4 linked regions of the Homo sapiens genome follow. The protein of the gene in region 1 purifies or fractionates together with the protein of each later gene. This does not show direct contact. Each region holds a gene or a part of one and is shown in the gene's direction. Other genes may lie near its edges. The genes, in order: RELB, TNIP2, KLHL20 and CTBS.

What was found.
Region 2: the proteins of RELB (region 1) and TNIP2 purify together in Homo sapiens (affinity purification with mass spectrometry; 2 studies listed by BioGRID and IntAct, with this or other methods). This does not show direct contact.
Region 3: the proteins of RELB (region 1) and KLHL20 purify together in Homo sapiens (affinity purification with mass spectrometry; 2 studies listed by BioGRID and IntAct, with this or other methods). This does not show direct contact.
Region 4: the proteins of RELB (region 1) and CTBS purify together in Homo sapiens (affinity purification with mass spectrometry; 2 studies listed by BioGRID and IntAct, with this or other methods). This does not show direct contact.

The regions. Positions count from the first base shown.
Region 1 is NC_000019.10:45,011,444-45,018,475, forward strand, and holds part of RELB (transcription factor RelB), read left to right. Parts: intron 1-492; coding exon 493-833; intron 834-7,032.
Region 2 is NC_000004.12:2,741,148-2,746,368, reverse strand, and holds the end of TNIP2 (TNFAIP3-interacting protein 2), read left to right. Parts: intron 1-833; coding exon 834-923; intron 924-1,423; coding exon 1,424-1,672; intron 1,673-1,862; coding exon 1,863-1,982; intron 1,983-3,848; coding exon 3,849-4,112; 3' UTR 4,113-4,721; downstream 4,722-5,221. UniProt on the Homo sapiens protein: Inhibits NF-kappa-B activation by blocking the interaction of RIPK1 with its downstream effector NEMO/IKBKG.
Region 3 is NC_000001.11:173,731,950-173,738,981, forward strand, and holds part of KLHL20 (kelch-like protein 20), read left to right. Parts: intron 1-1,763; coding exon 1,764-2,337; intron 2,338-7,032. UniProt on the Homo sapiens protein: Substrate-specific adapter of a BCR (BTB-CUL3-RBX1) E3 ubiquitin-protein ligase complex involved in interferon response and anterograde Golgi to endosome transport.
Region 4 is NC_000001.11:84,550,441-84,557,472, reverse strand, and holds part of CTBS (di-N-acetylchitobiase precursor), read left to right. Parts: intron 1-977; exon of another isoform or gene 978-1,493; coding exon of another isoform or gene 1,494-1,563; intron 1,564-2,273; coding exon 2,274-2,474; 3' UTR 2,475-4,348; coding exon of another isoform or gene 4,349-4,438; 3' UTR 4,439-6,942; coding exon of another isoform or gene 6,943-7,032. Other genes in the region: SPATA1 (spermatogenesis-associated protein 1), read right to left, coding at 4,349-4,438, 6,943-7,032. UniProt on the Homo sapiens protein: Involved in the degradation of asparagine-linked glycoproteins. Hydrolyze of N-acetyl-beta-D-glucosamine (1-4)N-acetylglucosamine chitobiose core from the reducing end of the bond, it requires prior cleavage by glycosylasparaginase.

The DNA.
Region 1 (7,032 bases):
GAGCCACCGCGCCCAGCCTATTATTTATTGAGAGACGGAGTCTCACTCTGTCGCCCAGGCTGGCGTGCAGTGTCACGATCTTGACTTACTGCAGTGTCCGCCTCCTGGGTTCAAGCTGTTCTCCTGCCTCAGCCTCCTGAGTAGCTGGGATTACAGACGTGGGAGACCATTCGGGCTAATTTTTGTAGAGACGGGGTTTCACTATGTTGGCCAGGCTGGTCTCGAACTCCTGACCTCAATTGATTCACCCACCTTGGCCTCCCAAGGTGTTGGGATTACAGGCGTGAGCCACCGCACCTGGCCTCCCTGACTCTGTGTGTGTGTGTGTGTGTGTGTGTGTGTGTGTGTGTGTGTGAGAGAGAGAGAGAGAGAGAGAGAGAGAGAGAGAGAGATAAATGGGATGGAAAACGTCTCGGGGGTAATCAAGCCTTTTTTTTTTTTTTTAATTTTTTAAAGAATGGGCGTCACCACCCGTTTTTTCTTCTCCCGCAGAGATCATCGACGAGTACATCAAGGAGAACGGCTTCGGCCTGGACGGGGGACAGCCGGGCCCGGGCGAGGGGCTGCCACGCCTGGTGTCTCGCGGGGCTGCGTCCCTGAGCACGGTCACCCTGGGCCCTGTGGCGCCCCCAGCCACGCCGCCGCCTTGGGGCTGCCCCCTGGGCCGACTAGTGTCCCCAGCGCCGGGCCCGGGCCCGCAGCCGCACCTGGTCATCACGGAGCAGCCCAAGCAGCGCGGCATGCGCTTCCGCTACGAGTGCGAGGGCCGCTCGGCCGGCAGCATCCTTGGGGAGAGCAGCACCGAGGCCAGCAAGACGCTGCCCGCCATCGAGGTGGGCCCGGCGAGCGGCCCCGGGCGGGTGGGACTGGGGCTTCCCCTGCACCCCGGAGCCATCCACATGCATTTATACGTTTATTTGATGGTGGCTGTTGTTGTTATTGTTGGACCAGATATTAATTATACTATCACCTGGCCTGGAATCCAAAAGGTTCAGAAAAAAGGAGGGGTCGGACATTTGGCTGGGCACGGTGACTCGCGCCTGTAATCCCAGTACTTTGGGAGTCTGAGGCGGGCGGATCCCTTGATGTCAGGAGTTCGAGACCAGCCTGGCCAACATGGTGAAACCCCATCTGTACTAAAAGTACACAAATTAGCCGAGTGTGGTGGCACAATCCCAGCTATTTAGGAGGCCGAGGTGGGAGGATTAGCTGAGCCCAGGGAGGTGCAGGCTGCTGTGAGCTGAGATTGCACCATTGCATAGCAGTCTGGGTAACAGAGTGAGACCTTGTCTCAAAAAAAAAGAAAAAAAAAAAAGAAGGCAGATCGTGGTGCGGTGGCTCAGGCTTGTAATTCTAGCACTTTGGGAGGTCGAGGCGAGCGGATCACTCGAGCTCAGGAGTTCTAGATGAGCCTGGGCAAGACGGCAAAACCCCATCTCTACAAAAAATACAAAAATTAGCCAGGTGTGGTGGCACATGGCTGTAGTCCTAGCTACATGGTAGGGCTGAGGTGGGAGGATCGCTTGAGCCTAGGAGGTCAAGGCTACAGTGAGCCAAGATCGCACCACTGCACTCCAGCCTGAGCAACAGAGCAATACCCTGCCTCCATTAAAAAACAAACAAATATATATAACACTGGAAGTAAAAAAAGCAAAGGTGATTACTTTTGGCAGGGTATTAATGTATTAATAAGGTACAGGTAAGTTTTATTTTTTTGAGACGGAGTCTTGGTCTGTTGCCCAGGCTGGAGTGCAGTGGTGTGATCTCGCCTCACTGCAACCTCCACCTCCCGGGTTCAAGCGATTCTCCTGCCTCAGCCTCCCGAGTAGCTGGGATTACAGGTCCACCACCACGCCTGGCTAATTTTTGTATTTCTTAGTAGAGAAGGGGTTTTGCCATGTTGGCCAGGCTGGTCTCAAACCCCTGACCTCAAGTGATCCGCATGCCTTGGCCTTCCAGAGTGCTGGGATTGCAGGTGTGAGCCACTGTGCCTGGCCTCTTTGGTGTCTGTTAATCTGGATCTGTTCTTCAATCTGTCTTTGTGTTTCGTGAGTTGAACATTTGTGCAGAACAGGACGGATGTTTTGTAGAATGTCCCACATTCTGAAGCTGGTCGTGGTGGCTCATGCCTGTAATCCTAGCACTTTGGGAGGCCGAGGCAGGCGGATCACCTGAGGTCGGGAGTTCGAGACCACCCTGACCAACATGGAGAAACCCCATGTCTACTGAAAATACAAAATTAGTGCGGCGTGGTGGTGCATGCCTGTAATCCCAGCTACTCGGGAGGCTGAGGCAGAAGAATCACTTGAATCCGGGAGGCAGAGGCTGCGGTGAGCCAAGATCGTGCCATTGCTCTCCGGCCTGAGCGACAAGAGCAAAACTCCTTCTAAAAAAAAGAAAAAGAAAAAGAAAAAAAGAATATCCCACATTCTGGGTTTGTTGGCTGTTTCCAGATTAGGTCAGATTATGCATTTTTGGCAGAAACACTCCAGCAGTGATGCTGTGGCCTTCTCAGTGTCTCACATCAAGGGACGTGGGATGTCGTTATTCCCAATATTGGTGATGCTGAGTTGGATCCTCCAGCTAATGTGGTGACTATCAGGTCTCTCCATGATAAAGATACAACTTTCCCTTTGTAATGAATTGGTAAGTTATCTATGGGATGATATACTGAGATGTATCATCCCATGTTTAACTGTATTCCCCAACTTCTAATTTCTAAGGCTTTTTTTTTTTTTTTTTTGGAGACAGGGTCTCTCTCTGTCACAGAGGCTGGAGTAAAGTGGCACAAGCACGGCTCACTGCAGCCTCCACCTCCCAGGCTCAAGAGACCCTCCCACCTCAGCCTCCTGAGTTGCTGGGACTACAGGTGCATGCCACCGTGCCTGGCTAATTTTTGTATTTTTTTGAAGAGTTGGCATCTCACCATGTTGTCCAGGCTGGTCTTGAACTTCTGGCCTCAAGCAATCCTCCCACTTTGGCCTCCCAAAGTGTTGGAATTACATGTGTGAGCCACCGCACCGGCCTAATTTCTAAGTCTTCCCAGGCAGTTATTCTGGCTCAGAGTTTTTTTTTGTTTTTTGGTTTTTTTTTTGATGGAATCTTGCTCTGTCACCCAGGCTGGAGTGCAATGGTGCAATCTCAGCTCACAGCAACCTCCACCTCCTGGGTTCAAGCGATTCTCCTGCCTCAGCCTCCCAAGTAGCTGGGATTACAGGCACGCGCCATGATGTCCGGCTAATATTTTGTACTTTTAGTAGAGATGGGGTTTCACCATGTTGGCCAGGCTGGTCTTGAACTTCTGACCCCAAGTGATCTGTCTGCCTCAGCCTCCCAAAGTGCTGGGATTACAGGTGTGAGCCACCGTGCTCGGACCCCAGAGTTGGTTTTGATTTCCAAGATTTAGAATGGTAAATGCCTAACCATAGGGAATGACCTGTCTCCAAATCTGGATTCAGGATTTTTTTTTTTTTTTTTGAGACGGAGTCTTGCTCTGTTGCCCAGGCTGGAGTGCAGTGGTGTGATCTCAGCTCACTGCAACTTCCGCCTCCTGGGTTCAAGCGATTCTCCTGTCTTAGCCTCCCAAGTAGCTGGGATTACAGGTGTGCACCACCATGCCCAGCTAATTTTTGTATTTTTAGTAGAGACAGGGTTTCACCACATTGGCCAGGCTGATGTCAAACTCCTGCCCTCAGGTAATCCACCTGCCTCGGCCTCCCAAAGTGCTGGGATTACAGGCATGAGCCAGCATGCCTGGCTTGGATTCAGGATGTTTATCCCCATCTTCAGAGTAGGAAACTGAGGTTAAAAGAGGGGCAGTTACCTGCACAGGGCACACAGCAAGTTTACTATTGTAATTACCGCCATTTACTGAGTGCTTCCATGTACCAGGTACTTTGCATACCTATTTTACACATAAAGACAGTAAGACCCGAGAGGTTTATCTTGTAGATGGCCAGTGGTAGAGCCTGGATTTGGTGCCAGGTCGGACTTATTCTAAAGCCTAATGGGCCAGGCATGGTGGCTCATGCCTGTGATCCCAGCACCTTGGGAGACTAAGGCAGGAGGATCACTTGAGGCCAGGAGTTCAAGACCAGCCCAGGTGACATGGCAAGATGCCCGTCTCTATAAAAATAAAAAAATTAGCCAGGCGTGGTGGCATGCGCCTGGGGTCCCAGCACCATGGGAGGCTGAATGGGGAGGATTGCTTGAGCCTGGGAAGTGGAGGCTGCAGTGAGCCATGGTCACACCACTGCACTCCAGTCTGGGTGACAGAGAAAGATGCTATCTCAAAAAAAAAAAAGAAAAAAGAAACAACTAAAGTCTAATGTTTTTTCCACAGTCCCAACTGACATCTCAAGGATGAAAAGCTTTCAGCCCTGGAGTCTGCATGAGTCCGAGACTGTTGACTCTAAGCTTTTCAGAATCTCCTACTATTACAGCGGGGAGCTGGTTAAATGAATGGTTTTAACCCTATCTGACCCAGTGAGATTTGTAGACAATATTACCTACCTCTATTCACAGTCACTCCCAAAGTCCATATTTTATTTTATTTTATTATTATTTTTTTTTTGAGATGCAGTCTCGCTCTGTCACCCAGGCTGGAGTGCAGTGGCATGCAACCTCCGCCTCCTGAGTTCAAGTGATTCTCCTGCCTCAGCCTCCCGGGTAGCTGAGATTACAGGCACCTGCCAGCAGGCCCGGCTAATTTTTGTGTTTTTAGTAGAGACGGGGTTTCACCATGTTGGCCAGGCTGGTCTCGAACTCCTGACCTCAAGTGATCTGCCTGCCTCAGCCTCCCACAGTGCTGGGATTACAGGCGTGAGCCACCGTGCCTGGCCAAAACTCCATATTTTACACCAAACTGTAGTATAAAAGAGAAAGAAAAGGAAATTAATACAGCATATATAATCACATTTATTTCAATATGTAAACGCCCCACAGGATATATGAGGAAGGTGGCAGTTGTTTGTGACTATATATAGGCTCCTTGTTAATGCCGTGGCCACAAATGCAGCCTGACCCAGCTGCGCAGACTTAGTGACTTATATGTCACACGTGCAGGGTTGCGGTTGGTGAGGGGATTTTCCAAAGTGGCGAACAACTCTTGGTCTAAACAATTAGTGTGCTGGTTGCAATCTTTGAAAATTCAGTGGGTATTACAGTTATGGGAAACTCCAGCCTGGGTGACAGAGTTAGACCTCGTCTCAAAAAAGAAAAAGGAAAAACAATTATGGGAAAGAATATTATTGGTGTCAAACAGAGCAAGGGCCAGGTGTGATGCATGCCTGTAAGCCCAGATGTTTGGGAGACTAAAGTGGAAGTATTGCTTGAGTCTGGGAGGCGGAGGTTGCAGTGAGCTGAGATCGTGCCATTGCACTCCAGCCTGTGCGAGATCCTGTCTTAAAAACAAACAAACAAACAAACAAACAAATCCACTCAGCAACAATAGAGCAAGTTTCTGGGATCTGGTCATTTTAAACAGGTTTCTTATTGACTCGAATCTTTGGCAGGATGTTCAGAAGGCTTGCTGGCTGTGGGATGGCTGTGCGGGACTGTCCCTGGTATTATAAACTGTCCAGCATAACTGGTCCTGTCTACTTGCGGTAGGGTCCACATCAGTGTCAACCAGCCACCCCCCAAATCCCATTTTTCCCCTAGGGGGCAGCACTCCCCCACTGAGACCAATGGTTAATGGTATTTTATAGGCTTGGGCTTTAGAAGTTCAGAGCAGGCTTCAGAAGGTATTTAATGCCAGCAGGGCTGAGCCAGTGACTCAAAGCTGCCAAGTGGGACTGGCCCTGCCTAACGGGGCTGGTTTTTATTTGCTGCTGCCTGTGGCTGCTGAGCAAAAATTCTGGCTTCACTTGCTATATCTTCCTTTTTTAAAAAAGAAAAATCTGGGGAGGCCGAGGTGGGCGGACCACCTGAGGTTAGGAGTTCGAGGCCCTGGAGGCTGGGATCGCACCACTGCACTCCAGCCTGGGCAACAGAGAGAATCTGTCTAAAAAAAAAAAAAACAATTCTGGAAATCCGAAATAATGTGATGTCTTATAATTTTAATTGTGGGCTCCAAGTTTTTCCTAATCTTTTACTTGGAAAAAAAAGTTTTAGTTTTTTCCTGTCTAGTTTTTCTTTTTAAGTTTTATTGAGGTATAATTGATGTAAGAAAAATTGCACATACTTAATGTATACATTTTGATGAATTTGTTATTATTCCTTTTTTTTTTTTTTTGAGACAGAGTTTTGCTCTTGTTGCCCAGGCTGGAGTGCAATGGTGCGATCTCTGCCTCTCAGGTTCAAGCAGTCCTCTTGCCTCAGCCTCCTGAGTTGGTAGGATTACAGGCCTGTACCATCATGCCTGGCTAATTTTGTATTTTTAGTAGAGAGGGGGTTTTGCCATGTTGCCCAGGCTGGTCTCGAACTCCTGGCCTCAGGTGATCCACCCGCCTCAGCCTCCCAAAGTGCTGGGATTGCAGGCACGAACCACCGTGCCCAGCCCTTTTGATTAGTTTGGATGATAAAAGAATTTAAACCTAGAGACCAGGCGCGGTGGCTCACGCCTGTAATCCCAGCATTTTGGGAGGCCGAGGCAGGTGGATCACCTGAGGTCAGGAGTTCGAGACCAGCCTGGCCAACATGGAGAAACCCCATCTATACTAAAAATACAAAAATTCTTGGCCGAGCGTGGTGGCTCAGGCCTGTAATCCCAGCACTTTGGGAGACTAAGGCAGGCAGATCACAAGGTCAGGAGGTGGAGACCATCCTGGCTAACATGGTGAAACCCCGTCTCTACTAAAAATACAAAAAATTAGCCAGGTGTGGTGGCGGGCGCCTATAGTCCCAGCTACTCGAGAGGCTGAGGCAGGAGAATGGCGTGAACCCAGGAGGTGGAGCGTGCAGTGAGCTGAGATCGTGCCACTGCACCCCAGCCTGGCCAACAGAGCGAGACTCCATCTCAAAAAAGTAAAATAAAATAAAAATACAAAAATTAGCCAGGCATGGTGGCAGGCACCTGTAATCTTAGCTACT
Region 2 (5,221 bases), on another chromosome or scaffold:
CCTCATCACAGTCTCTAAATAAGTGTCACTTCTCAGCCCTGAACTCAGCTGAGTCACCCGGGGCTTCCCGGTGTAGGCTGTGTTAGGACGTGCACTTCCTTTGTCATTTGAGGGGAATTCTCAAAAATTATGTCACTGAGATACAGTCAGAATTGTAGGGTACACACGAGTTTCAGGAGACTTTTCATTCAGCTCTGTAGTTGTTAGTGGGGGTTGGTTTGGGTTGTGGCTTCGGTGACTCCTGACCCTGCGTGGGGCAGAGGTTAGATTCCTGTGTCCAGAATCACCTGGTTGAACCCGATTGTCTGCAGACAGGACAGTGTCATGGGCTCCAAAGGAGGTAAGCAGGGTGCATGGCCAGGCCCACCCTGGGCAGCTGGGGGCCCCCTCACTGGAGATCCTCTGGTTTACAATGGGATTCAGCTTCCTGCCTTCCCTGCTGTCTGTGATAATGGCAAATCTCTGGCAATGAGAAGACTTTATCATGTCTGGTGTGCCAATCCCTGCAGACATTATGGCTTTAGAATATTTACATTCCAAATATTTAAAAGACAAACAGCTCAAACTGGTAGGTGGGACGGGATAAGGACAGTGTGAAAGGTGGTGTGGCCTGAAGACCTCCCATCCGGGCTCTGGCCTGGGCCAGGTGGGGTGGGCCTGGGCAGGGAGAAGGTGGTCCCTTGTCCCTGCTTTGCTTCTCTACCAAATGAATGATCACTACCCGCTGCACTGGGGGACGCAGTGATAATCTGTGGCCTCAGCCTCTGGGTCTAGCTTTCTCCCCTCTTGCTGTATGTGACAGAGTGTCTTCTCTCTGTCCCTTCCTCATGCAGTCGGAACACACAGATGGGCACACCTCTGTCCAGAGTGTTATTGAGAAGTTGCAGGAAGAAAATCGACTGTTAAAACAGAAGGTGACTCACGTGAGTGTCTTTCACATTTCGTTTGAGAAGAACACATGGCTTACAAACTGTAAGTGAGGGTTCTTTCCTTGGCTGATGCCCAGAGTCGCCCCCCGCCCTCTGGCCACTAGGACTTGATACACACAGTCCCTAGAGACTGGACTTTTTTGCTTAAAACGACGTACGGGACATGTCCTGTCCATCTCCATCCCCCTAAAATTAATCCACAAGTCAGTAAAGGAGATGCAAGAGTTAGCAGCAGGAGGTCCATTTTCTAAGACAGCAAAGCTGCACCGAGTCCACCTCCGTTCATGCTGCTTGCGTACGGGTGTCATCGTGCTGCCTCAGGATTCTCTAGCGGGCCTAGTGTCTGCTCTCTACAGAACAGGGAGGGGCAGCTTCCATTTAAGAGGAAACTCTCACTCAGCGAATCACTGCTAATACATAATTCACACTGGGTGCTGGCTTGAGCAGCTTTGTCAGCTGCCTTCACCGTGAGCTTTCCGGCTCCACCTCTTCAGGTTGAAGACCTCAATGCCAAGTGGCAGCGCTACAACGCCAGCAGGGACGAATACGTGAGGGGGCTCCATGCGCAGCTCAGGGGGCTGCAGATCCCCCACGAGCCCGAGCTGATGAGGAAGGAGATCTCCCGGCTCAACAGACAGTTGGAAGAGAAAATAAATGACTGTGCCGAAGTGAAGCAGGAGCTGGCGGCCTCCAGGACGGCCCGGGATGCTGCGTTGGAGCGGGTGCAGATGCTGGAACAGCAGGTGTCTGTCCCTCGGGCTCCGGACGGCACTGACCAGATGTCTGCTGGCCGGTGGTGGCCGAAATCATGGGACAGGCTGGGCTGAAGGCTTGGTGGCACTGAGTGGGCAGTGGTCACTGTGGGGGTGGGAGAAGCCTGGTGGGGCGCTTCCTCCTTCCTTGAGCAGAAATGTGTGTCTCGCCTCTCTTCAGATTCTCGCTTACAAGGATGACTTCATGTCAGAAAGGGCCGATCGGGAACGGGCTCAAAGTAGGATTCAAGAACTGGAGGAAAAGGTCGCCTCTTTGCTGCACCAGGTGTCCTGGAGACAGGTAGAGTATGAGGGCGTTTTTCTTCCTGCTTAGGTTTAGTGTTTTTGTTTCTCTTCTCATGAGATTAGAGCCTTTCTGTGTCTGCCAAGGCCCTGATTTGCTGGTGATGAGGGTTGTGGCGAGCCCCTCCCTGCTGTGGGGAGAGCCACCTGGCCTGGTACCTGGGCGTGGTCATGGAAAGCCTCCCTGTTATACTGTTTAGTTATGGAGGAGGCTGGCATGGCGGCCTGTCTTAGCAGAGGTGGCTGTCCTCAGGGCCCGTCCGTCACTGTCATGCAGTCAGAGAGCATATCTCGGGCCTCAAAGTGTGAGCTCCCTACGTGTCCTGACCTGTCTGTGAGACGGGAACCCCGCTTACCTTGTCATGTAGATGTGATGGCCCTGGGTGTCCAGTAACATCCCCAGCTCAGCCTGGCACGTGGAGCTGGGCCTTGCAGGGCAGGGGCCCCTCACCCCACCCCTGGGCTCAGTGCTTTTCCTACCATGGGGTGCCTTGAGGGAGGCCTGGCATGAATGGGAACCGATGAAGTTCCTCAGTGTGTGACCCATGGCCTCTTCCTTCTCCTCACTGACTTGTGCTCTGCAAAAATCCAGGAGAAGTTTATGTAGCTCCTCATCAAGTACCTAACACACTTTTGGCCCTGGGAATAGCCTGGGCCCCACTCAAAGAGCTTCCTCTCCTGGCACAGACTGAACAGTAGTGATGCCTCTTGAGAATCGATGCGTCCCGGGCTGGAGCTAGGACGTCAGCCGTGTTTCAGGGTGTGAACAGGGACCCTGGGGCTGTGAGGCCACCCCCCACTGCCCTGTTCCGAGCAGCCACTGGGCCTCAGTGGTTTCTGCTTCTCCTCCGCATGAAGGGCACGGGAGAGTCATGGTGGACTATGGGACTAACCCTGGGACTAAGTCTGCAGCAGAGGGCTGGACAGGTTTTTCTGGCCTTCATGAATTCAAGGAAGCATGTGATTTGGATTGAAGGAGCACTATTGGTACAATCGTGAGGATGGTCTCAGGCCGCCTCTTGAAGATTTTGGACCAGATGAACTGGTTCCAGACTTGCAGGCCCAGATTCTTACCCCCGGGGGTAAAGTTCCTGGTGGGGCCTGCAGACCTTGTACTAAGTGGCCTCTGGTTCCCTTTCAACAGTAGCCTGTGGCCCCTCGAGGGTTGCTCAGTCCCTAGATGGCACAGCCAGGGACAGTGGTGCTGAAGGCATGGGTGATAAGCTGTAGTCCCACTGGGGAAAGTCCACATTCAGACAGGAAGTGGAAGCACCAAGGCCTGCTGGAATGAAGTTCCCAGGCAAGCAGTGAGGGCCACAGGCTGCAGTGCTTCAGGACGGATGTTTGGAGAACATGTGCCAGATCATGCCAGGTGGTTGGTGGGGCCAAGCCAGGGACACCTCTTGCTGCTACTGAAGGACCCCCTGAGCCCCAGAGTGCTCAGCACCCCCAGGCCCCACAGAGGAGGTGCAGAGTAGGGTTGGTACTCAGTTTGCCCAGCTCCCCACCAGAGGCTCTGCCACCTCCACTCTGTGGTGGCCTGTGGGCCACGTCATCAGGGCCACCTTCTCAGTCAGGTCTCCTGGGGCCGATAGGTCCAACTGAACAGGACTTCCACCAAGGGGCTGGGGGGTGGACCACGCCAGGGCCTACTTCTTCATGAGCACATGACGGAGCGTGTGTGTGATCCTCAGTCATTCACTGAGCGCCCCCTTGTCTGGGCTCTGGGGCGCAGCAGGAAGCAAAGTGAGGGGCTGAAGTTCCGCTCAGGGATAGGTGAAGTGCCTCTGGTTGCTGGAACCTGAGACCTGGCTTTGTGACCGTCAGCACAGCCCACGTATATACACCCTTGCCTTTTCTCCAGGATTCTCGAGAGCCAGACGCCGGCCGGATTCACGCTGGGAGCAAAACTGCCAAGTATTTGGCCGCCGACGCATTAGAGCTTATGGTGCCTGGTGGCTGGAGGCCTGGGACTGGGTCCCAGCAGCCAGAACCCCCTGCAGAGGGCGGGCATCCTGGCGCGGCCCAGAGAGGCCAGGGGGACCTTCAGTGCCCTCACTGCCTGCAGTGCTTCAGTGACGAGCAAGGGGAAGAGCTCCTCAGGCATGTGGCTGAGTGCTGCCAGTGACCGAGACTCACCCGTGCCCTTGCGGCCTCCTGGCCCGGTGCAGCTGCCCTCAGGGACAGGGTGGGTGCTCTCAGATGCCATGGGTTGAGCTCTACTGAGAGCCAAGGCCCCTAGAATAGTTGCGGGGCACTCTGATCGTTCACTTTGGTCCCTTTGGCTATGGAACAGGCTGGGTCACAGGGAACTGCCAGTGAGGCTGGAGGCTGGAGGTGGAGATGGGGTCAGGAACATCTGGCAGAGGGAGGTCCCAGTCTGTGTCTCCATCAGGCTTAAGCCAGAGCTATCTGGTGCTGGTGTGCCAGCCCCTCCCCCAGCCTGCCTAGAAAGGGGTGGCTGCCTGAGGGAGTCACTTGTATGGTCCCCAGGGTGGGAGCCCCATCCTGTTCTATGGAATAAAGCGTCGCCTCTCTGCCTCGAACCAGTCAAATGGAGTATTGCGGCTGCACGTCACACTAGGGTGGCCACCCCCGCCATTGCGAGCCACATGTCTGCACTGAGAAACTGCATTTCAGTAGCATTTGTCATCCAGCCGGAAGTTAAAGCACACTTACTTTATTCACCTATTTTTATAATAAACGTTCTTGCTGCTGTGACTGCTCTGAGAATTTGTGTTGGAAGCTGGGGTGCAGGGACTGAACAGTATTTACAGCAGCTGGCATGGGAAAACACTCCTGCTGTTGCCTTCTGCCAGGGCACCAAGACAAGGGGGTCAGTGGGAGCCTGGCTGTATTAGGGTTCTCTAGAGGGACAGAACTAATGGAACAGATAGATATATAAAGGGGAGTGTGTCAAGTATTAACTCACACGATCACAAGTTCCCACAATAGGCCGTCTGCAGGCTGAGGAACAAGGAGAGCCAGTCCCGAGTTCCGAAACTGAAGAACTTGGGAGTCCTATGTTCAAGGGCAGGAAGCATCCAGCACGGAGCAAGATGTAGGCTGGGAGGCCAGGCCAGTCTCTCTTTTCACGTTTTTCTGCCTGCTTTATTCTGGCCACGCTGGCAGCTGATTAGATGGTGCCCACCCCGATTGAGGGTGGATCTGCCTTCCCCAGCCCACTGACTCAAATGTTAATCTCCTTGGCAACACCCTCACAGACACACCCAGATC
Region 3 (7,032 bases), on another chromosome or scaffold:
CACTTTGGGAGGCTGAGGCAGGCGGATCACGAGGTCAGGAGATCAAGACCATCCTGGCTAACTCGGTGAAACCCCGTCTCTACTAAAAATACGAAAAATTAGCCAGACATGGTGGCACATGCCTGTAGTCCCAGCTACTTGGGAGGCTGAGGCAGGAGAATCACTTGAACCCAGGAGGCGGAAGTTGCAGTGAGCCGAGATTGCGCCACTGCAGCCCAGCCTCCGTGACAGAGCCAGACTCTGTCTCAAAAAAAAAAAAAACCAGTGTGATGGCATGTGCCTTTAATCCCAGCTACTCAGGAGGACTGCTTGAGCCTAGGAGTTCAAGACCAGCGTGGGCAACTTAGTGAGACCCTCATCTCAAAAATTAAAAAAAATCAATAAGTAAAAAAACCCAGCAACAACAAATGGTAGAATAATCTGAAAAAGAGAGAGATTCTTTTCCTTCTCCCTTCTTGTACCTATTGTTCCTTTTGTCTTGGGATTTCAAAACTCAGGCCAGTGGCATTTAAGCTTTTTTGATATAACCTGCAGTTTACGAGGGGAAGCAGTGATGCGTATCTATACAAATTTGTGTGTGTACATACACACAATTGAACATGCTTAACTAAATGAAATGTATGCTGTTACTTTCTATTTCATTTTTTAATGCTTCTTATGAGGCACTGAATTTTACAACTAAACCTAGTCCCCATTTACAGCACTCTTACCATAGAAAAATGCAAACCTCCAAATAAACTTTTAGATTCAACTTTTAAATACTACTTATTTATAAATTGAAGAATGTCTGTTTATGAACTTATTCACTTATTTTATAATCATACCGAAACCTCAGTGATTCAGACCAATTTGACAGGAGCAATTCAACATATGTAGTACTTTTAAATGAAGCTTATCATATTTAATATCTCTAGATATGAAATTAGACCCAAATTAATCTAACAAAATCTTGACCTGGAGGCTCTTTGGAGTCCTGCTAAATCATCATTTAGCTTGCCATTTTCTTTACTATTTTAATTTTAATAAACTTTGAAGAAAAGATTTCTATATAAAGATAAACTTCAATCCAGACTTTTTTTTTTTTTTTTTTTTGAGACAGAGTCTCTGTCACCCAGACTGGAGTGCAGTGATGCAATCTCGGCTTACTGCAGCCTCTGCCTCCAGGGTTCAAGTGATTCTCATGCTTCAGCCACCCAAGCAGCTGGGATTACAGGCATGTGCCACCACACACGGCTAATTTTTCTGTAATTTTAGTAGAGACAGGGTTTTGCCACATTCACCAGGCTGGTTTCGAACTCCTGGCCTCAAGTGATAAGCTTACCTCAGTCTCCCAGGGATTACAGACATGAGCCACCACACCAGGCCGTCAGTCCAAACTTTTTATATTGTCTTTAATTTGAAATTTAACTATTAATTGAAGCGTGTTAACTTGGGCTTAATTTTTAAAATGGATAAGCATAACCACCTGATCTAAAAGTTTTATTGCTATAGTAGCTCAATTTAAATGGTTTATGTAGACCAGGCATGTTGGCTTATGCCTACAATCCCAGCACTTTGGGAGGTGGAGGCAACAGGATCACTTGAGCCCAAGAGTTTGAGACCAATCTGGGCAACACAGTGAGACATCATCTCTACAAAAAATTTAAAAAAAAAATCACCAAGCTAATTACATTTCCTTATCGCTTGAATTACAAACATTTAAGGGGAGAAAAGAGCTTATAATAATACTGCCATCTTCTCTCTCTCCCCCATCATTCCTATAGGTGTACCAACATTCGACCAGGAGAGACTGGAATGGATGTAACAAGCCGCTGCACCCTTGGAGACCCCAACAAACTGCCAGAAGGGGTTCCCCAACCTGCCCGCATGCCCTATATCTCAGACAAGCACCCTCGACAAACCTTGGAAGTGATTAACCTTCTGAGAAAGCACCGGGAGCTATGTGATGTGGTGCTAGTTGTGGGCGCCAAGAAGATATATGCCCATCGAGTCATTTTGTCAGCCTGTAGTCCCTACTTCCGAGCTATGTTTACAGGAGAATTGGCAGAGAGCCGTCAGACAGAAGTAGTGATCCGAGACATTGACGAGAGGGCTATGGAATTACTGATTGACTTTGCGTATACCTCCCAGATAACAGTAGAAGAGGGCAATGTTCAGACTCTTCTGCCAGCTGCTTGCCTCCTCCAGCTGGCAGAAATACAGGAAGCCTGCTGTGAATTCTTAAAGAGACAATTAGATCCTTCTAACTGCCTGGGCATTCGGGCTTTTGCTGACACACATTCATGTCGTGAGTTGCTAAGGATAGCAGACAAGTTCACCCAACATAACTTTCAAGAGGTGAGTTGCACTTGGTGTTCCAATGCACCCATTTGTTGGAGAGCAATATGGGTTCACATTCTGCTAAATAACACTTGCCTGGGTATTTCCTGCTGATTCTAACTCATAATAGCAAATAAATAAGTTATTATAAATCCTAAACCTGGCTTTTATTTTAGAGGGCAATTTTGTGTTCTACCAGCAAGTTAAGATTTAGGGATTTATTCTCCCTAACTGTATTCATAAAAGTATTTAAAAAAAAATTTTTAAAAAGGTTTATTTATAAGCCAAAATAGAGTAATTCACAAGAGGATCTATGCCTGATAGGATACCTGGTATCATGATTTATATAAGATATTTCCTTCCTGATTATGTGGATTATTCAGAATAAATTATAGATTATAGGTTGTTTGGTAAACTAATAATCTGAAAAGATGAGTTTAGATGTTATCAAAATAATTTTCATTAAACCTATCTTTCCCTTATTTATTTAACAAATATTTGTAAAGCTACTATGTTTCAGCCACTGTGCTTGGGAGCATAGGGTACAATAGTGAACAAGAAATCTAGAGTCTCTGTATTCATGGAGTTTATAATCTAGCAGGGAAGATAATCATTAAATGCTTAATTATACAAATAATTAACTACAGTTAATGGGTGTTACAAAGAAGCAGTCCTGGATGATTTAAGAGTGTATTACAGAGAAATTTAACTTTGGTGCTGGAACAACTTGTGCAAAATCCCAAGACATTAAAAAGCATCACTAGTTTGAAGACCTGAAAAAAACCCAGTGAGACCCAGAGACCAAGGGGGGTAGAGGATGTTACATAGTGATTACACAGAAAGAAGAGGGCTAAATCACACTGAGGTTGATAGACTATGTTAAGAATTTGAGATTGGCCTGGTGCAGTGGCACATGCCTGTGATCCCAGCACTTTGGGAGGCTGAGGCGGGCAGATTGCATGAGCTCAGGAGTTCAACACTAGCCTGGGCAACATGGCGAAACCCTGTCTCTACAAAAAATACAAAAATTAGTCGGGCATGGTGGCGTGCACCCTTAGTCCCAGCTACTTAGGAGGCTGAGGTGGGAGGATGGCTTGAGCCCAGGAGGTAGAGGTTGCAGTGAGCCAAGATCGTGCCACTGCACTCCAGCCTGGGTGAGAGAGCCAGACCAGACCCTATCTCAAAAAAAAAAAAAAAGAATTTGAGATTGATCCTAAGAGTGCTAGAAAACCATTAAAGGGTTTTAAGCAAAGACAAAACATGGTCTGTTTTACAACTTTTTAAAAAATCATATTTTTATTTATTTTGCAGTAAAGTGGTCAGCTCAGGACCATAGTTTTTTTCCCCCTAATAGTTTTTGGAGAACAGGTGGTGTTTGATTATATGAATAAGTTCTTCATTGATGATTTCTGAGATTTTGGTGCATCCACCACCCGAGCAGTGTACACCGTACCCAATGTGTAGTCTTTTATCTCTCACCCACCTCCCACACTTCCCCCTGAATCCCCAAAGTCCATTGTGTCATTCTTACGACTTTGCATCCTCATAGCTTAGCTCCCACTTATAAGTGAGAACATATCATTTTTGGTTTTCCATTCCTGAGTTACATCACTTAGAATAATGGTCTCCAACCAACTCCATCCAGATTGCTGCAAATGCCATTCTATCTTTTTTTTTTTTTTTTTTTTTTGAGATGGAGTCTCACTTGCTCTGTTGCCCACGCTGGAGTGCAACGGGGCTCAATCTCAGCTCACTGCAACTTCTGCCTCCTGGGTTCAAGTGATTCTCCTGCCTCAGCCTCCCAAGTAGCTGGGACTATAGGTACATGCCACCATGTCCAGCTAATTTTTGTATTTTTATTAGAGATGGGGTTTCACCATGTTGGCCAGGCTGGTCTCAAATTCCTGACCTCAAGTGATCTGTGATCTGCTTGCCTCAGCCTACCAAAGTGCTGGGATTACAGGCGTGAGTCACTGTTCCTGGCCAATATATTGTTCCTTTTTATGGCTGAGTAGTATTCTGTGGTATATATACATACCACATTTTCTTTATCCACTTGTTGATTGATGGGCATTTGGGCTGGTTCCGTATTTTTGCAGTTGTGAATTGTGCTGCTATAAACATGCACATGCAAGTGTCTTTTTCATATAATGACTTCTTTTCCTCTGGGCAGTAACCAGTAGTGGGATTGCTGGAACAAATGGTAGATATACTTTTGGTTCTTTAAGAAATCTCCATATACTGTTTTCCATAGTGGTTGCACTAGTCCACATTCCCACCAGCAATGTAAAAGTGTTCCCTTTTCACCACATCCATGCCAACATCTTTTTTTTTTTTTTAATTTTGAAACAGAGTCTCACTGTGTTGCCCAGGCTGGAGTGCAGTGGCATGATCTCGGCTCACTGCAACCTCCGCCTCCCGGGTTCAAGCGATTCTCCCACCTCAGCCTCCCGAGTAGCTGGGATTACAGGGATTTGCCACCACACCAAGCTAATTTTTGTATTTTTAGTAGAGATGGGGTTTCACCATGTTGGCCAGGCTGGTCTCAAACTCCTGACCTCAGGTGATCTGCCCGCCTTGGCCTCCCAAAGTGCTGGGATTACAGGCATGAGCCACCGCACCCGGCCTATGTTTTTATTTTTTAAATTATGGCCATTCTTGCAGGAGTAAAGTGGTATCACATTGTGGTTTTGATTTGCTGATCATTAGTGATGTTGAGCATTTTTTCATATGTTTGTTGGCCATTTGTATATCTTCTTTTGAGAATTGTCTATTGGTCTTTAGCCCACTTTTTGATGGAATTATTTGTTTTTTTCCTTGGTGATTTGTTTGAATTCCTTGTAGATTCTGGATATTAGTCTGTGGTTGGATCTGTAGTTTGCAAACATTCTCTCCCACTCCGTGGGTTGTCTATTTACTCTGCTGATTATTTCTTTTGCTGTGCAGAAGCTTTTTAGTTTAAGTTCCATCTATTTATCTTTGTTTTTGTTGCATTTGCTTTTGGTTCTTGATCATGAACTCTTTGCCTGAGCCAATGTCTAGAAGGGTTTCTCCAATGTTATCTTCTAGAATTTTTATGGTTTCATGTCTTAGATTTAAGTCTTTGATCCATCTTGAGTTGGTTTTTGTATAAGGTGAGAGATGAAGATTCAGTTTCATTCTTCTACATGTGGCTTGCCAATTATCCCAGCACTGTTTGCTGAATAGGGTGTCCTTTCCCCACATTATGTTTTTGTTTGCTTTGTCAAAGATCAGTTGGCTTTAACTATTTGGCTTTATTTCTGGGTTCTCTATTCTTTCCATTGGTCTATGTACCTATTTTTATGCCAGTATCATGCTGTTTTGGTGACTATAGCCTTGTAAAATAGTTTGAAATTAGGTAATGTGATGCCTCCAGATTTGCTTAGCCTTCCTTTGGGTATGTGGGCTCATTTTTGGTTCCATATGAATTTTAGGATTGTTTTTTCTAGTTCTGTGAAGAATGATGGTGGTATTTTTATGGGAATTGCATTGAATTTATAGATTCTCTTGGCTGTATAGACATTTTCACAATATTGATTCTACCCATTCATGAGCATGAGATGTGTTTCCATTTGTTTGTGTCATCTATGATTTCTTTCAGCAGTGTTTTGGTAGAGACCTTTCACTTCTGTAGTGAGATATATTCCTAAGTATTTTATCTTTTTTTTTTTTTTTGCAGCTATTATAAAAGGGGTTGGGTTCTTGATTTGATTCTCAGCTTGGTTGCTCTTCGTGTATAGCAGTACTACTGGTTTGTGTACATTAATTTTGTACCCTGAAACTTTACTGAATTCATTTACCAGTTCTTGGAGCTTTTTGGATGAGTCTTTAGGGTTTTCTAGGTATACAATCATATTGTCGGCAAACAGCGACAGTTTGACTTTCTCTTTAACAATTTGGATGCTCTTTATTTCATTTGTTTGTTTGTTATAAGAGATGAGGTCTTGCTTTGTCCCCCAGCTTTGACCTCCAGGGCACAAGCGATCCTCCCGCCTCAGCCCCCCACGTAGCTGGGACTACAGATGCGCACCATCATGCCCGGCTAATTTTTGTATTTTTCTGTAGAGACACGGTTTTGCCATGTTGCCCAGGCTGGTCTCAAACTCCTGAGCTCAGGCAATCCACCTGCCTCGGTGTCCCAAAGTGTTGGGAGTACAGGCATGAGCCACTGCACCTGGTCCTGGATGCCCTTTATTTCTTTCTCTTGTGTGATTGCTTTGCCTAGGACTTAAAGTACTATGTTGAATAGAAGTGGTGAAAGTGGGCATCTTTGTCTTGTTCCAGTTCTCAGGGGGAATGCTTTCAACTTTTCCTGTTCAGTATAATATTGGCTGCAGGTTTGTCATAGATGGTTTTTATTACCTTAAGGTATGTCCCTTCTATGCCGATTTTCCTGAGCATTTCAATCATAAATTGATGCTAGATTTTGTCAAATGCTTTTTATGTATCTAATGAAATGATCATATGATTTTTATTTTTAATTCTGTTTATGTGGTATATCACAATTATTGACTTGCATATGTTAAACTATCCCTTCATCCCTGGTATGAAACCCACTTGATCATGGTGGATTATCTTTTTGATATGCTGTTGGATTCAGTTAGCTATTATTTTGTGGAGGATTTTTGCATCTATGTTCATCAGGGATACTGGTCTGTAGTTTTGTTTCTTTGTTATGTTCTTTCCTGGTTT
Region 4 (7,032 bases), on another chromosome or scaffold:
CGCCCTCCGCCTCCCAGGTTCAAGCAATTCTCCTGCCTCAGCGTCCTGAGTAGCTGGGATTACAGGCATGCATCACCACACCCAGCTAATTTTTGTATTTGTAGTAGAGGCAGGGTTTCACCATGTTGGCCAGGCTGGTCTTGAACTCCTGACCTCAGGTGATTCACCCATCTTGGCCTCCCAAAATGCTGGGATTACAGGCGTAAGCCATCGCGCCTGGCCCCCTCTTTTTTATTAATTGCAAAATTCTGTAGCAACATGAATCAAGTTTCTGTCTTATTTGAAGAGAATCACTCTATTGGGCTGTTTCAGCAATAGCAGCTCATCTTGGACTCAATATTCTGGAAAGCAAATATGCCTTAACCATGCATAAATTAGTCTTACATGTGCTTAGTTTTTGCCCTTTGTTCCTTTACAATTTTGAGACATTTGAATTTCTTAATAATATCAAAAAGGCTCAAAGTACTAGCTAGAATGATGGCAAAATTCAAAGGTATATGTCTTTGGGTTTGCCCCTGAATCTTCAATAATCTGTCATATTTAAGTACAAGTTCTACAAGTTGCCTTTTAATAATGAATCACAACTATTACTAGGGCATGCATGGCTTTGTCTAGTTCTAAAAATGTTAAAGAATGGAATATAAGATACAGACTGAGATATGCTTGATTACAATTAGTCTACCATATTTAAATATGCCGCAGTGTATTCATTTACCAGGTGAATTATTTTCCTTCAAAGTGGTCTTTTTTTTTTTTTTTTTTGAGACGGAGTCTTGCTCTGTCTCCAGGCTGGAGTGCAGTGGCGTGATCTCAGCTTACTGCAACCTCCGTCTCCTGGGTTCAAGCAATTCTCCTGCCTCAGCCTCGAGAGTAGCTGGGACTACAGGCATGCACCACCAAGCCCAGCTAATTTTTTTGTATTTTAGTAAAGATGGGGTTTCACCATGTTGGCTAGGATGGTCTCGATCTCTCGACCTCATGATCTGCCTGCCTCGGCCTCCCAAAGTGCTGGTATTACAGGCCTGAGACACCGTGCCCGGCCCCAAAGTGGTCATCTTAAGAGACTATTCTAATTCCAGGAGTGCTGCTGTAAATATTACTGGCATTAATTCAGAAATGCCTTTAAGGAGTTTCCTAGATGTATATAAAAATAAGTAAATTATTTTTAGTCACAGGTCTTTCTATTTTTTATCTCCTATCTTTTTCACCTTCCTTTGCACTTTGTCCTAGATCTGCTCCTTTCCCTTTTCCTTTGTCTCTTATCCAATAGCTCATGTGCTGCCTGAGAGAGACTGTGTTAGTACTAGATAGAGGTAGTTGATTCTGGGCAGAAGGACTTTTTAGGGTGGAAGGTGAACATAAGACCAGAATCTAATTTATGGCTCATAATCAGGTGTATGTTAAGTCACCAATAAAGTGCAGACCTAACAGACTCTGAGAATGTATCTGTAAGACCTAGAAAAGGATGTACTTTTCTCCTCCATTGCCATTACCTTTTGACTTGGCTGATTCATCATAAACAAAATCTTCTGTAGACCTCCTAGCCAGGCACACTTCTAGCAACTACAGAGAATACAAAAAAGCACATAAGCTGGTTTTAGAGGACCAGAGCATTGATTCCCCTTAACTTTGGTTGCATACCAGCATTATCTAATGAAACATTAAAACACAAAACAAATATATGCCCTAGCATTAACCCTGGAGAATTCTGATTCAATAGGTTTCATGTGGTGTGGGACCCAGGAATCTGTATTTTAAAAGCTCCGCAAGTGATTCAGATGTACGCCTTGGCTAATAATCACTGGCTAAGGGCAAGGAAAGAATCTTAGGACATGAAAAGGAGCTCAAGTAGAATCTATTAGGAGGCTCGTTTCTGTAATCTTTGCCATTGTTAAAAGTGCCATAAGCAATAATACCTAGAAAGTACAGATGTTCCTTGATTTATGATTGTATTGTGTCCTAATAAACCCATAAACATATGATAAGTTGAAAATGAACGAAATACCCTGATAAATCCATCGTAAAGTCTAAAAATTGTAAGTTGAACCATTGTAAGTCAGGGACCATTTGTATCAAATATAGAACCATGGAATTATAGAATAGGAAAGTGTTATGCCCTAAAATTTTTATTTCATTGTATCCTTTTTGAATAATTGGATTTAGGAAACTTTTTTCCCTCTTACTGTACTGTATACTTCTTTTATTTTTCCCTTTCCTGTGGTGCTGAATTGTACTAAATACTTTAAAATCTCCATTTTAATTTATTTATATAGGATCCTGCTGGCCACTTTCATCAAGTATGGTATGATAACCCTCAGAGTATTTCTTTAAAGGCAACATATATACAAAACTATCGCTTACGGGGCATTGGCATGTGGAATGCAAACTGTCTTGACTACTCTGGAGATGCTGTAGCCAAACAGCAAACTGAAGAAATGTGGGAAGTCTTAAAGCCAAAGCTGTTACAGAGATGAACATCTTTTGTCAAACCATTAAGAGTTAGAAAGATGATCTGTATCAACAGATCTAGTTTCTTGCATTTTTATTATGTTGCTATATACTTTTGTTATCCGTATACTAAAAAAAAAGAATAAATAAATGTTTTGATTGTTTGAATTTGAAAAATACACACGAATGTCCTCAGTATCCAGGAACATAAAGGCAAGAAGCAAGTCAACTTACCTATTAAATATTCCTCTATTAGATGTTTCAACACTATAATTTAATTGGGAAAAATTGCTTTCAGAATTTTATTATGCCATATTTCCCTTCATTATAGTAAAATATATGCTCACGAATCAATGCTGATTTTTAAAATATGTATAATCTGAAGTGGAAATTGTTTGCTTAGAGTTTTTAAAAACCTAGTCTTTGAAAAGCAGTTTGTGCTATACTTTTCCCCCAACCCTCCAATAAATCTTAAATTTAAAACCTACAATGTAGTGTCTCCCCTTTAGGTTCATCAAACTGATGAAAATAATTTTTCTGCTTCCTGACTCCATATAGTATTTATGTTCTCTGAGGTACTTGAACTAAATCTTTGGACAGTGAGTGAGAATTAAAAAGAATCCAGAAGATTAAATGTATTCACAAAATAGAAGAATGTAACAGTAATATTTTGAATTGGTAAGTTAGAACTACCTAATATTTTCCAACTACATTATTTTTATGAGGCTCATTTGTAAAATTTTTAATAATAGGAATAACTTGCAGTTGAACTTGATTCTGTTCACTGTCACACTTCTAATTATTCATTTCTTCATTTATGGACATATATAATTTATTTCTTGGCTAGCTTGCTTACATGGTTAAATTTTTCTTTCTACATCTGCAATGTATCTTTTTTATTTTTATTTTTTGTAGAGACAGGGTCTCGCTATGTTGTCCAGATGGGTCTCCAACTCCTGGGCTCAAGCACTCCTCCTGCCTTGGCTTCCTAAAGAGCTGGGATTACAGGCATGAGCTGCATTGTGCTTTTAATGATCTAAAGACACTGATTAGCTTCTCAACTAGTTCTCTTTCTAAAAGATCAATTTTATACAAATAAGTTTTCTAAATGTAATAAAGTCTGTTTTCTTTCTCCAGGGAATTAAGAACAACATTGTGCTGCCCTTATTAGTTCCTAATTACAGATTAAAAATCTGTATCTTTGAACTCTAGATTTACATAAATCCTGGCTTCCCTGCACATTTTGCCCCTGTAAATTGGAATACATGATGATTGAACCATCTGTTATGAGAATATTACATTTCCTATTTACACAATTGTTTGTGACAGAGTAAAAACCATTTTCATAGTATATGTTGGATCACTGTTGTCTTCATATTTCTAAAATAAATGAATTAAAAAATTTAAATTCTTAGATGCTTATCTCTATCATAGCTCAGAATGCAACTTCAATACCCCCATTCTTTTATATTTCCAGATTTCTTTTAATTAAGATATAATGAACAAATTAAGTTAAATGAAGTCTGTATTTTCATGCAAATATATTAGTATTCATTAATATACATTTATTCTTTGCAAATAGATTTTAGTTATATTAGCTCTTAAATTGTTAAATAAATTATTATTGAATTTTATTATTAAATTATTAAAATGAAAATTATAAAATTAGCACTGTAAAATAATATGTAAAGGACTTGGAATGTTAAAAATAACCATTCATCATTTTGCTTTATATTACATCTAATATTTCCTGAAACATTTTGTAATACCCACATGGAAAGTGGAGAAAGAGAAACCTTGTGCTTTTTATAAAACATTGCCAAGGAGAATAATGGTTAAACAAATCTGTTCAAATACATATTTAAATTTTTTTACAAATAAAAGTTTTAAATTAACATACCTAATTGAGATTGTAGAGATGTATTATTTTTTTTTTCTGTGCCAGTTCAGTTTTCAATGTTCGTAAATCTGAAACTGCTTGTTTTCTCATCTATAAAAAGAATTACTTTTCAAAAATGAACTTCATCATACCCTTCTAAAAGTACATCATAGTTGTCATGTAAACAGGGTTTTTGTAACCGCTTTAACTGTCTTCTCTCATTTGGCTTCAGTGCTTTCAACTCCCACTGGATTACTACAGTAAATGTGTAGATTATGAATGCTGTTTAATAAGCATGCTTATCTACTGGTGAGATATGCTATAAGGTAACCTTGTTTATGAGTAGATAGGGACAATACAATTGAACTGTTCTAAAAACTAGAGTGAGAAAGAATTTTATGTTTTGCTTAAACTTCAAAACCTGTTGTTCTCAATGTGTAAAGAAAATAGTGAAAACAACAAGAAAACAAAATACAAAAAAAACCCTTAATTCCTAGCCCTTAGGAACGGAATAGATATTTCAGAAATATAGTGTTTACTCTGTGGCAAGCACTCTTCTAAGTGTATTAGTCTCTTATTTTTTTTTCAAAAATTTTACAGAATCAGATACTAGTATTTATCCCCATTTTACAGTTGAAATGGAGACCTTTAGAGGCTAAGTAACTTGCTCAAGATAAAAAACTAGTAAGTGAAGTGGGTACAGCCAGGATTCAAATTCAAACCACCTGGTACCAGAGCCCTTACTATTCCAAGTGTTGTCTGTGGACAGCAGCATTAGCATCAGTTGGGAGCTTGTTAGGTAGGAAGAATCTCAGGCTGCACCCAGACCTACTGAGTCAGATCCTGCATTTTTAAACAGGATCCTCAGATGATATATTAAACTTTGAGAAGCACTACTTATGCTATACTATCTTGAATAAATATGGTTGCAAGAGACTCAGGCTGGGTTTTTTTTGTCCCTTAGTTCTGAATCTTATAGGTAGTGCTGTTTTGGGGAGATCATTCAGAAATCAATAAAACTTCTTAAATAATGTCTGTTATGTGTCAATCAGGCACTATGGTTAAATACAGGATTTTTTCCCCCCAGCCTATAAGCTGAAAACTTTGTTCTCTTTTTTTCCTCTTATTCCACTTGTCCTTACTGTTTTTGTATGAACAATTCTAATTTGAGTTCAAACCATGAGTGACATTTGTAATGTTAAAATATACAAAGATTACAAGTAATGTGCATGCTTTCCAGAAGAAAACAGCATGAGGGGAGTCATAATCCAAGCCTCTGGGGGCATTTTTATTACTCCTTCCTACCTACCCAATTATTAAGTGTACAAGTTTACATATTGGCTTTATCTCCATATATTGAATAGACAGTTTTCCTTCATTGAACAAATTATTTTTTGAGTGCATATTTAACTGATATTTTGTTAAAAATTATCCTCTGCTCTTTTCCTTTTCTATTTTAAGTTTTAAGCTTCTCAGTGCCAAACCAGGGCTTATTTAGCCTCGAGAATGCTGCTTGTAAAAAGAATCTAGAACTGCACTGTCCAGTATAGTAGAAGCCAGTTGCCATATGTAACTACTAAACTTAAATTAACTAAAATTAAATAAAATTTAAAATTCAGTTCCTCAGTCACACAAACTACATTTCAAGTGCTCAATATCAATAGGTGGCTAGTGGGTACCAATCTGACAGTGCAGGCATAGAACATTTCTATCATCACATAAGTTCTGTTGGACAGTGCTAATTCTATTTTTTTATTTTTAAATTTTATTTATTTTTATTTTTATCTGAAACCGAGGACAGTACTGATTTTCTTTTTTCTTTTTAAAATTTTTTTAAAAAGAGCTAATTCTAGAATGCAGTCATTATTCTGTGTCATAAAGCTGTTTCTGATAAAGAAATGAGAGCATTCATATAATTATCGTTCTCATTTTCCTGCCTTGCTGTGGGTACTTGTATGAAAATGTATAATCTTCTGTTTTCTGTTCAACAAAAAAGCTTTTTAATACATATGTACTTCACAGATAATTTCTATGATGTAATTAGTTGTACACAATTCTCACCAAATAGAGCATGCCCAGAAGCCTCTACTAAGCATCTGCTATACAAAAGGTCCCATGGGAGAAACAAAGTTAACTAAGGCATAGTCTCTGCCAGGAAGGAAACTTAACATCTAGTAGAAGACACATTATTCATATTTAAATAATAGAATACATATGAAAATAACCAGAAAAAATGAAACGATTACCCATAAAAAATTAAATGTCAGTTCAGAGGAGAGCTCAGTGGTTTATCAGACTTAATAATTCTAATACAGGAAAACTACTTAAAATTTTTTTTGAGAATATATTGACTCACAGGTTCCTTTTCCTTTAATTCTTCCTAGTAAAATTTTACTAAATTTTACTTTGGCTTTATTATATCATGTATCTTTTCACAGGTTTAGTTTTTCTTCCTGCATTTTTTTTTTCACCTATGCTCTTTACTGTTAAGGTAACAATTTTAATACAGTCAATCCTGGCTACCCTTATATTATTGACACCCAAAGTTAAAACACCAAAATATTTTATTTCAAGATAAATGTTATAATAATCTGATTAGGAAAAATGTAAATTACCTTAACTTCTACTATGAGTTTCATTTTGTCAGTATCTAGTTTTCTCTTAAGCTGGTCAATTGCATGCTGTACCTCAGTGATCTGGATTAT